Linked DNA regions of Homo sapiens: region 1 is linked to region 2. Evidence: fine-mapped expression QTL. A gene starts in region 2. The other region holds a variant in brackets. All regions are shown on one strand. Distances are from middle to middle.

Region 1 (5,382 bases), 470 kb before region 2:
TTTGTAATTAATATATATCTGATAAGAGACTTGTAACCAGAATTTATAATGAAGTCTTAATACTTTAAAAAAAAAACAAATTTTTAAAAGGACAGAGGATCTGAATAGACCCTTTTCCATAGAAAATATGCAGATAACCAATACATGAAAAGATGCTTAACATCATTGGTAATTAGAGAAATGCAAATCAAAACCACAATGAGATAGCACTTCACACTTACTAGGATAGCAATATATATATAGTTGGCAGACAATATAAAGGGTTGTCAGGATGTGGAGAAATTGGAACCTTTATACATTGATGATGGGACTGTAAAGTGGTACAGCCATTTTGGAGAATAATTTAGCAGTTCCTCAAAATATTAAACGTAGGGATACCATATGACCCAGAAATTTCAGTCTCCTAGATTCTAAGAGAATTAAACACAAGTATTCAAACAAAAACTTGTACATGAATATTTATAGCAGCATTATTCATGACAGTCAGAAAGTGGAAACAACCCAATATCCATAATAAATGGATAAACAAATTATGTTATGTACATACAATGGAATGCTATTCGGCAATTTAAAAAAATTAAGTACAGATACCTGCTACAACATGGAGGAATCTTGAAAACATTATGCCAAGTGAAATAAATCAGTTGCAAAAGGCCACATACTGTGATCCTATTTATATGAAATATCCGGAATAGGCAAATCTCTAGAGACAAAAAATAGATTAGTAGTTGCTTAGGACTGAGTAGGGGGAAATGTGTGTTAGGGAAATGAGGAGTGATGCTAATAGGTTTCTTTTTGGGGTGATGAATTATTCTAAAACTAGGTGCTGATGATGGTACAACTCTAAATACACTTAAAAAATTGAGTTGTGCACTTTCAATGGGTGAATTTTATGGGATGTGAATCTCAGTAAAGCTGTTAAAAGTGTTAATAGTAGTTATCTCTGATGGTGGGCTTATGGTAATTTCTTTTTCTTCTTCTTCATAAATATCTCCTACAATAAAAAAGTATCGCTGGGCGCAGTGGCTCATACCTGTAATCCCAGCACTTTGGGAAGCCGAAGCAGGCAGATCACAAGGTCAGGAGTTTGAGACTAGCCTGGTCAACATAGTGAAACCCTGTCTCTACTAAAAATACAAAAATTAACCAGGTGTGGTGGTGCATGCCTGTAGTCCCAGCTACTTGGGAGGTTGAGGTGGGAGAATCACTTGAACCTGGGAGGCGTAGGTTGCAGTGAGCTTAGATTGCGCCATTGCACTCCAGCCTGGGTGACAGAGTGAGACTCTGTCTCAAAATAAATAAATAAATAAATAAATAAATAAATAAGAAAGTGTTTTTACTTGTAAGAAAAAAGGAACAGTTATTGGTTTTAGTGGATTATCTCAACAAGGCAACAGAATTTAGTAGAGCGTTTCAGGGGTTTGAGAGCATTTTTTTTTTTTTGAGACAAGGTCTCTCTCTGTCACCCAGGCTGGAGTGCAGTGGCGTGATTTTGGCTCACTGCAACCTCCACCTGCCAGGCTCCAGCAATTCTGTCTCAGCCTCCTGAGTAGCTGGGACAACAGGCACCCACCATCACGCCCGGCTAATTTCTGCCATTTGCCCGGGCTTGTCTCAAACTCCTGAGCTCAGGTGATCCGCCTGCCTTGGCCTCCCAAAGTGTTGGGATTACAGGTTTGAGCCACCAGGCCCGGCCAAAACCATTCTTAAATACATGTCCCTAGAAGAAAACTGCTCCATTCTCCCATTCCATTTCCCACATCTTATTGTTCTCTACTGTAAAATAGAAGGTTTTTTTTCCCTTAAAATAATGAAACCTGTGAGTGTTTCTATTTTCTTCATTTTATGCAGGATTCATTTCAGGCTGAATGCCTTTTCATCTTTGACTTCTCATTGTTTGCTGCATCATAAGAAACTTCTGCACTTCAAAATCTTAATTTTTATGGGAATACATTCAGTGTGCTTTCAGAAATTGAGCTTAATACTTTAATCCAATTTAACAGATTGCATTCTTGCTCTTTCCTTATCCCAGGACCAGATATCATTTGGTTATAATCCCTTAACAGTTATAAATATTAACAACAATGAATGCAGCTTGCAAAAAAATTAAATTTCAATTTAACAGTGTAATAATGTGCTGTGAGAATTAAAATGACTTGTTAAAATATAGCCTACAAATTATATGAAAGCATTGTCGAAATTAGGGATTTTCTGTTTATTATAGCATATTTTGATGTGTTGATTAATCGATTATTGCAGGTAGGTGGATTATTCAGTGTCAGATGATAACTGGACTTAAGTATGAGCGATCATGGTTGCTTAAAAGAGGTCTACTTAGTTGAAAGGCAATACTACTCAAACAGTGGGAAAAATCCATAAACATGTTATAATATCAAATTTTCCTCTTAGATATACACCATGAAATTTAAAATGGCTACATTAAATTGTGGGAGACATAGCCCACAAAATCTGAAATAACTGATGGAAAAGTACTTGAAAAAGTTAAGAGCTTTTTTTGTGTGTGTGAGATAGAGTCTCGCTCTGTTGCCCAGGCTGGAGTGTAGTGGCATAATCTCAGCTCACTGCAACCTCCACCTCCCATGTTCAAGCGATTCTCTATCTCAGCCTCCCAAGTAGCTGGGACTATAGGTGCATGCCACCACACTTGGCTAATTTTTCTGGTGGTTTTTTTTGTTTTTTTTTTTGTTGTTTTTTTTTTGTAGAGACAGGATTTCACCATGTTGGTCAGGCTGGTCTTGAACTCCTGACCTCAAGTGATCTACCCACCTCGGCCTCC[C/G]AAAGTGCTGGGATTACAGGCATGAGCCACTGATCCCAGCCAAAAGTTAAGAGCTTTATAAAATATAAAATATTATCATTATTATCACATGAAGTAAGAAGACTATGTGTCCTTAGAAAGGATGAACATAGGCCAGGCGCAGTGGTGCACACCTGTAATCCCAGCACTTTGGGAGGCTGAGGCGGGCAGATCACGAGGTCAAGAAATCGAGACCATCCTGGCCAACGTGGTGAAGCCCCATCTCTACTAAAAATACAAAAATTAGCTGGGTGTGGTGGTGTGCACCTGTAATCCCAGCTACTCAGGAGGCTGAGGCAAGAGAATCGCTTGAACCTGGGAGGCGGAGGTTGCAGTGAGCCAAGATCGCATCACTGCATACTCTAGCCTGGGAAGCTGAGTGAGACTTCGTCTCAAAAAAAAAAAAAAAAAAAAGAAACGATGAACATAAGCATTTGCAAGAAATATTCAAGTTAAAGGTTTTTCGTTTTGTTTTAATGTTTATTCTTGAAGTCAGCTTTCTGAAAAACAGCAGGAATTCTGCAGAGATGCTCGGAAATCAGGAATGAGGGTAGCAGCTTTCAGTTTTATACCGAGGGGTGATTTCATTTAAACACAGGATCTGGAGTAAAAATGTTTGAAAACCATGACCGAGGCCTGGCGCGGTGGCTCACGCCTGTAATCCCAGCACTTTGGGAGGCCGAGGCGGGAGGATCACAAGGTCTGGAGATTGAGACCATCCTGGCTAACATGGTGAAACCCCGTCTCTACTAAAATTTAAAAAAAATTAGCCAGGCGCGGTGGCGGGCGCCTGTAGTCCCAGCTACTCGGGAGGCTGAGGCAGGAGAATGGTGTGAACCTGGGAGGTGGAGCTTGCGGTGACCCGAGATCGCGCCACTGCACTCCAGCCTGGGCAACAGAGCGAGACTCCGTCTCAAAACAAACAAACAAACAAACAAACAAAAAAACATGACCGCAGATGTATATGTTTAAATCCTTTCAGTATTAATTGATGGATTATGACCTACCCCTGAATAATAAGGTGGAGAACTGAAGGCTCTTCTTTCTTTGGTGAGGCAGGCAGACCCATAGCTGGGCTGAAACCTACTGTCAGAAGTGTTAGGTATGTACGGTAATGGCCCAAGTTTATTATTATTATTTTTATTTACTTTTTTTTTTTAGACGGAATCTCACTCTGTCACCCAGGCTGGAGTGCAGTGGCACAATCTCAGCTCACTGCAACCTCGACCTCCCAGGTACAAGCAATTCTCCTGCCTCAGCCTCCCAAGTAGCTGGGATTACAGGTATGCACCACCACGCCCAGCTAATTTTTGTGTTTTTATTAGAGACAGGGTTTCACCACATTGACCAGGCTGGTCTTGAACATCTGACCTCAGGTGATCCACCCGCCTCGGCCTCCCAAGGTGCTGGGATTACAGGCGTGAGCCACCGCGCCCAGCAATGTCCCAAGTTTATAAGAGCCAAGGATGTAGTTGTGCTTGCATCCCTTGGAGATTATATTTAAGCAAAAGGACAGTGATGGGGGTGGGAGGAGAGTGCACTGGGGGTGTGTGTTTGTCCTTATAAGCAAATGCAAGATTAGGCTTTCACTCAGTGTTATAATGTAATAATTATTTTGGAAGAAAAATTTCACACTGGGGCTATATCAGAGCTTTTCACTAGGGTTTCCTGCCTGTTTCCTGGGCCGCCTTACTCACTCTACTGTAAAATCCCTGAAGGTAAACACTCTGACTTTTTTACCTTTGTATCACCAGCACCTTGGCAGTACCTGATACAAAAATATTTGAATTACTTACAAGATTTAATAATCTAGCAAGCTACCAACAAAATGATAGAAATTTATTTTCCAGCTTAGGGTAATTGATGGCCCTCACACTAGAGAAAGCATTAGCAGGTGCCATTTGCAGATTTTTTTGGAAAAGAATAGAACCAAAGGGAGCTCCTGGCCCCAATATTCTCCCTCTTAAACATTCTTATCCCTACACTTAGAGTTTCCATACTTTTTATAAGGTTAAGTCATGCAAAAGATTGCACTGTAAACCTGGATAGCCTGTTTTTCTGGAAGGTCACAGTTTTAAATAACTGTGCCATTTTAATTATTCCCAAAACAACATTTCAAAAAAGCATTGCAAATATTTTCTGATTTGAATTAGATTTTGAGAAATGTGAAGATGTTACATTTTTGGAGTCAATTAAAATTTTGCTATGAATATGGCTGATACATCTTAACCTAATTTGCTTTCTATAAATAGGCAAGTATCAATTTGTATATTTTCTTAATTTTAATTTTTCACCTTGTCACTAAAAAAAAAACAGTATTTAGTTTACTGTTTAATTGCTTTTTAAAATAATCATAGTAGCATAAATGTGTCATATAGTAGGCTGTGGAATTGATTTCCTTTCATATGTAGAAATTGAAAAATAATAAATAATAATTTTACCTAGCCTTACTTATGTTCATCTTACATGTAGATAGATTTCATAATGACCAAAAAAAGAAAAAAACCTAAAATTTTCATGGGTTACTTTTGGAGGATGCTAGGGAATCAACTTACAATTTTAAAATG
Region 2 (5,382 bases):
CCCTTCTGGAATGAGTAAGAGATATCACCATAAATGTCTTTACTAATTAGGATTTCTGAGGAGAGAATGGAAACAAACTCTCAGCCTTAACCTTACTTCAAAGTCTGGATGATCTTTAGTTCCATAGATCTACCCAAACAGCTCCACAGGAATGTAGCAATAAAGAATGGAAGTTATCTCAGGAGTCCCAGAACTTAGGTGGGTCACCCTTAATAATGGAAACTTCAAACTGTATAGGACTTTACACTTACAGGGCATTTTTACATTGTCATGTAATTTGATTCTCCCTAAGCAGAGTAATAGATACAACTGCTACTACAGGTGGTAGTACTAGCACCCCTAAAACAAAAATTCGAAATGCTCCCAATCTAAAACTTGTTAAGCACAGACATGACCACAAAGATGATGTTAACATTGCAGAAAAGCACCTACAGACATGGTAACAATGAGTGACGGGCTTCTTGAAAGACTATAGCAGAGCGCATTCATAACAGAACAAGAAATCGTGTCAGTCTATAAAATCAAAGAGACTTCTAAGACAAAAGCTTGTTAATGAATCAGGTGACTGGCAAAAACATTTTTAAAAGCCATCTGGCAGAATGCCTCCTCATCTCTAGAGGACCCACTTTCTGGTCCCTCTACTGCTTCAGATACTACTTCTCACCTAAAAAAATACTGTGCACAGTAACCTTTAATCAAAACACAGCATCACAGCAGGAGACAGAAAGCCTTATGTTGCTGTGTCTAACAGCTGATACAGGTATTCTGGTGATGCTACTGTGCTTAGTTACCCTGAACACATCATTTATTTTCACTGTGTTAATAGTACATCATATTTTTTTACCGTTAAGAACTTATGTGTAACGTAAGAAAATATTTATCGGTAGCATATAAATTCATTGTCAGGAATGGTGGTGATGCCAACCAACCAGACTATCCACATGGGTGCCTGAGATAGTGACGCCTTTGCTTTCTGATGGTTCAGTGTAGATAAACTTTGTTTCATGCACACAATTATTGAAAATATTGTATAAAATTACCTTCGGGCTATGTATATACAGCATATATGAAACATAAACGAACTTCAGGTTTAGACTTAGGTCCCCTCCCCAAGATAGCTCATTTTTTATGTGCAAATACTCCCAAATCCAAAAATATCTGAAACAAAACATACTTTGGTCCAAAGCAAAGGAAGGTATGGAGAACTTAGATAACTTCTCCAAACTTCCTTGCTGGAAGTCCACCACTGATCTGTCTGATCAGAGTGAGCCAGTGCTCTGTGCCCCACCCTTCCTCACTCCTCACCCGCACTATCCTTAGGGAGGCCAGCAGCCTTGAACCTGAAGGAAGACCACTAAAAGAAGTATGGCCCATAGGTGAGTGAGAGGCAGGCTTAAGGAGCAGCTGGCTACCTCTGAGTCAGCCCTGTAGACAGGGTGGCCGTGCACTGTGGTCGTGACCAGGTGCTGCAGGCTCACCTCCCTCACCTTGTTGGCTTCAGCTGGGGGCACCAGCAAACACCCGACCACAGCCACCAAAGATAAGAGCTTCATGCTTATCAGGCTTGCTGGGCCAGCAAAGCCGGACACCTGGAAAAAGAGATACGGAGTCGGAGAAGGGGAAGGTGGCCACACCGCAGCCAGCACGCTAGGCCCTTAACCATCCGGCCAAGTGGGAATGGGGTTGGGGGCTGGGCTCCAGGATTCCAAGGCCTGCTAAACCTGGTCGCCAAACCCTGCTTCCCTCCCGCCCAACTCTCCGGCTCTCCGCCAGCCACCTGGTGAGCCCGGCAGAGGGGTCCTCGAGGGGACACCGCTGCCAGGGGCCTCCAGTTCCTTCTCAAGGCCCGGCTCTGACCCGCGCATCACGTCCCACCGCCCTCCGCCATCTCCGCCTCTGCCCGCCCCGCAGCTCCTCCCCGCTCGGGCCCGACGGGAACTTTTGGGTGCGAGTCTGGGACCCCTGCTCCGACGGCGAAGGCCGGTGCCCACCACGCCCAGAGGTCTTAAGCCGGACTGGGACCCCCAATAGCCCCGCGACCCCCGTCCCCTCCCCCAATGCCGCGTCCACGAACCTACAAGCCCGCTGCAGCCGCAAAAGACCCAGTTGTCCCCGCCCTCTCCTAGCTTCTATTGGTTGCCAGAGCAGCCCCTTAACCCGACCGCGCTGTCGCCATGGCAACAAGACCCGCCTTCACCTGGGCGGGGAGACTCTTGCGCAAGGGAGAGGCGGGCATTTCTCAAACCCGACCAAACCAGAAAAGGGAACGTCAGCCTTCCAAACTCCTGGGGAAGGGTCTTGCCTTTGTGTGGCCTGAGAACTCCCACTGCGGTGCTTCTCCCTTCCTTGTATTATAAAACTCAGCTTGTTTCATCTTGCTGTTTTAGAAAGAAAGCGCTTTATACACTGTAAGCTAGTAACGTCAACAAAAACGATACGAGATTGAAGGGCTTTGTCCTCATTCAAAATCTGGAAATGTTATTTAGGGATCCACGTCTTTGCTGCAGAAGACTTTCTGCGCGGCAACGTCTCTACCCCTACACACACCTCTGAGAAGGAGAAATCTAGGGTTGGCGATGGGTGGTGTGGGCTGGGCCTGTGAAGAGTGTGCACAACAGCGTCCTCAGCCTGATCCCCCTACCCCATGCTGGTGCTGGGCCTGGCAAAATGGGGCAAAGTGTGCATGGCCAGGATGCAGGGGTGAGGGTCCCTGGCTGCTATGTGGCAGATGTGAACTTCTTGCCAGCTGTGAAGGAAAGGGGAGTCATATGAATTCAGGGCACCAGACCCGGAGTGAGGACACCGGGGCTTTGGCCCTGGCGCTCCCCCTAAGCAGCTGTGTTAGCCTGGAAAAGATACCTCCCTTCTCTGGGCCTCAGCTTCCCTTACTTCCCTTATCTGTAAAATGATTCGGTTGGATTCTAAGATCCCCTTCAGCTTTGATATGTTGGGATTCCTTAGGGGTGGGTGGGAGGGGTATCAATATGGCCCAAACTTGAGGTTGGTGGCTGGATTAGCATAGGGGCTGGGTCCAGGTGGAATCAAGCCCCTCGCAGGCCCTGTGAACTGAGGTGGGCACTTATCTGGAGGCCACTGAGTTTGTGTTCCTCTCTCCTATGCTTATGTCTTATTCCTCTTTATATCCTTGCCACCTGGCAGAGTGACCTGTGTTTGGTAGGTGCTCAGGAAGTGTTTGCTAAACTGAATTCTATAGAATTAAATTAAATCTAGTTGGCAGGGGGCAGGGGCAGGAGGCCTGCAGTGTGATGCAAAGGTCAGGGGCTTTGGAGCTAGAGTGACCAGGGCAGGAATCCTGGTTCCTCCCTTCCTAGTTGTGTGAATTTGGGTGGTTTCCTTTAGGACACCGCCTTTGGATCTTTGGAAGTCTTTGGAATCCTTTCAGAAGTCTCGGTTTCCATGCCCATAAAATGGGATTAATATTACCAAATTTTCAAGGTGGTTGTAGGGATATAATGAGTTTACATATGCAAAGCACCTAGAACAGCATCTGACACAAAGAGGGAGGCTCTATAAATGGCAATGTTAGCTCATTGTGGAGGTCAGAATGGCTGCTTTGGTGAGCAAGCTCAGGCAGAGACAGAATGCCTACCTCGTGGGGGCAGAAGGGATAGTTCAAGTACTGGAAAAAGACACTTCTTCCCCCCATATACGTTCCATATGAAGGTGGGACTTTCATGGGGACAAAAGCATGGGGCTGAGTCTGTCACCTCCAATGGATGACCCTCTGACACACAACACTAAAGATACCCAATGCTGAGCTCACCATCTTCCTCATCAAACAGAAGGGAGGCCTTCCACTGTCATTCTGCATTTCTGCAGGTCCTAGATTGTGGCATCAAACTATCTTTGACTCCTCTCTCATATTTCCACATCTTGTCTATCCAGGTGTCCCCAGGAGGTAGCTATCATCACCCTGCCTGTATCTTTCCTCGGCTAGCATTCTGCTCCCTGAAATGCACTCCCTTCCTGTGTGCTCCTAGGTCCATCCTGTCTTCCTCCAATTCTGTTTTCAGCACATCGCTCATTGCTCAATCCCTGGTAGCAAGCACCCTGTTGCATCCAATTCAGACCCCTCCACTTGGCAACCAAGCCAAGTGGTTACCATTTCTGCACTTCCCCACCCCATCTCATCACTGGTTACTCCCCCCACCGGCTGTCCCTATATCTGACTTTGCTCATTGCAGTCCTCCATAGGACATTATCACCCCCAGCACTGCCAGTCGTTATCTTTCATCTTATTCAAATCTTTGCCCAAGCATTTGCCTTGCAGAAGCTTTTCCCAAATAGTCCTACCTGACCCAGGGCACCTCATTCCCATACATCCTCCATGTGCCCTGTGTTTATGAGCCATGCCAGTGAAGTGAGTCTGAACCTATTCATTAAATTTAATTCCATAAACATGTGCCAAGCACTATCTGTGAGCCAAACTCCAGGGCTCACAGATGCTAGGTACCCCAGGGATACAACAGACAAATCACATGCAACTCTGCTTTCAAGTAATGCACAACCTAATAGCAGACCAATCACATGGTCAGAATGTAACATAGAAAGTGATGTGTTGTAGAAGTGAAGCAGCCTTGTTGTCTGTGGTGACACTTGAGGTTTGTTGTCTCCTGGCCATGAAGATCAAGGAGGTAGACACACAAAGAGTGAGGTTAAGAGTGGAAATTTAATAGGTGAAAGAAAGACAATAGCTCTCTGCTACAGAGAGGGGTCCTGGAAAAATGAGTTGCCAATTTAAGGTGAAATGCAGGGGGTTTTATAGATGAGCTAGTGGGGAGGCAGTATCTCATCTATACAGGGCATCTCAAAAAAAGTTAGCACCAGGTGTGCCATCTGCATAGGGCACAAATCTCTGGCAGCTCCCAGCCCAATCTTTATTATGCAGGTGGTTTCTCTGCCTGAGCTTCTCCATGTTGCCCAGTTCTTTCTTACTGTACATGTGCTAACAAAAAAGGGAAGGTGGAGTCCCATGGTGAACATGCCTGGCCCCCCGGTAGCCCTTTTCTATGAGTGCAGCTGCCAGCATTCCTCCGTGCAAGCTTCCAGCTTCCTTATATATGTTTGCAGCCCAATCTTTGAGGCTGCTCTGTGTTAGAAAAGAAATGATTTCTAGGGCTGCTTCTTATTAGAAGGGAAGTTCTGCCAAGGACTTTTTTGTCCTTGCTATCTGCCTAAATAATTTCTATCTCCCGTATCAGAAATGCTTTTTCCCTTCAAAAATTTTTTGAGCACTGTGCTAGGTGCTGGGGATATCTCAGTAAACAAGACAAACCCTGTCCCTGTTCCCACAGAACTTGAAGTTTATTGCAAGAAAACCACAAATCAACAAGCAATGACAATTCAGGGTGGTAAGAGCTG

What was found. PIP is the estimated chance that this variant, and not a neighbour inherited with it, causes the effect.
Region 1: its variant is fine-mapped to the expression of TMEM9 in minor salivary gland (GTEx, PIP above 0.99).

The regions. Positions count from the first base shown.
Region 1 is chr1:200,686,333-200,691,714 of GRCh38, forward strand. DDX59-AS1 (DDX59 antisense RNA 1) reads left to right here. Exons shown (of 3, transcript NR_110787.1): 2 at 3,977-4,098. Among named protein-coding and RNA genes, the nearest start is that of DDX59, 19 kb to the left of the region's middle. The variant C/G (reference allele first, on the strand shown) is at 2,798.
Region 2 is chr1:201,152,371-201,157,752 of GRCh38, forward strand. TMEM9 (transmembrane protein 9) reads right to left here and starts at 2,104. Exons shown (of 5, transcript NM_001288565.2): 1 at 1,488-2,104. The coding sequence starts at 1,553. RefSeq lists an enhancer at 1,341-1,490 and a silencer at 1,901-2,180.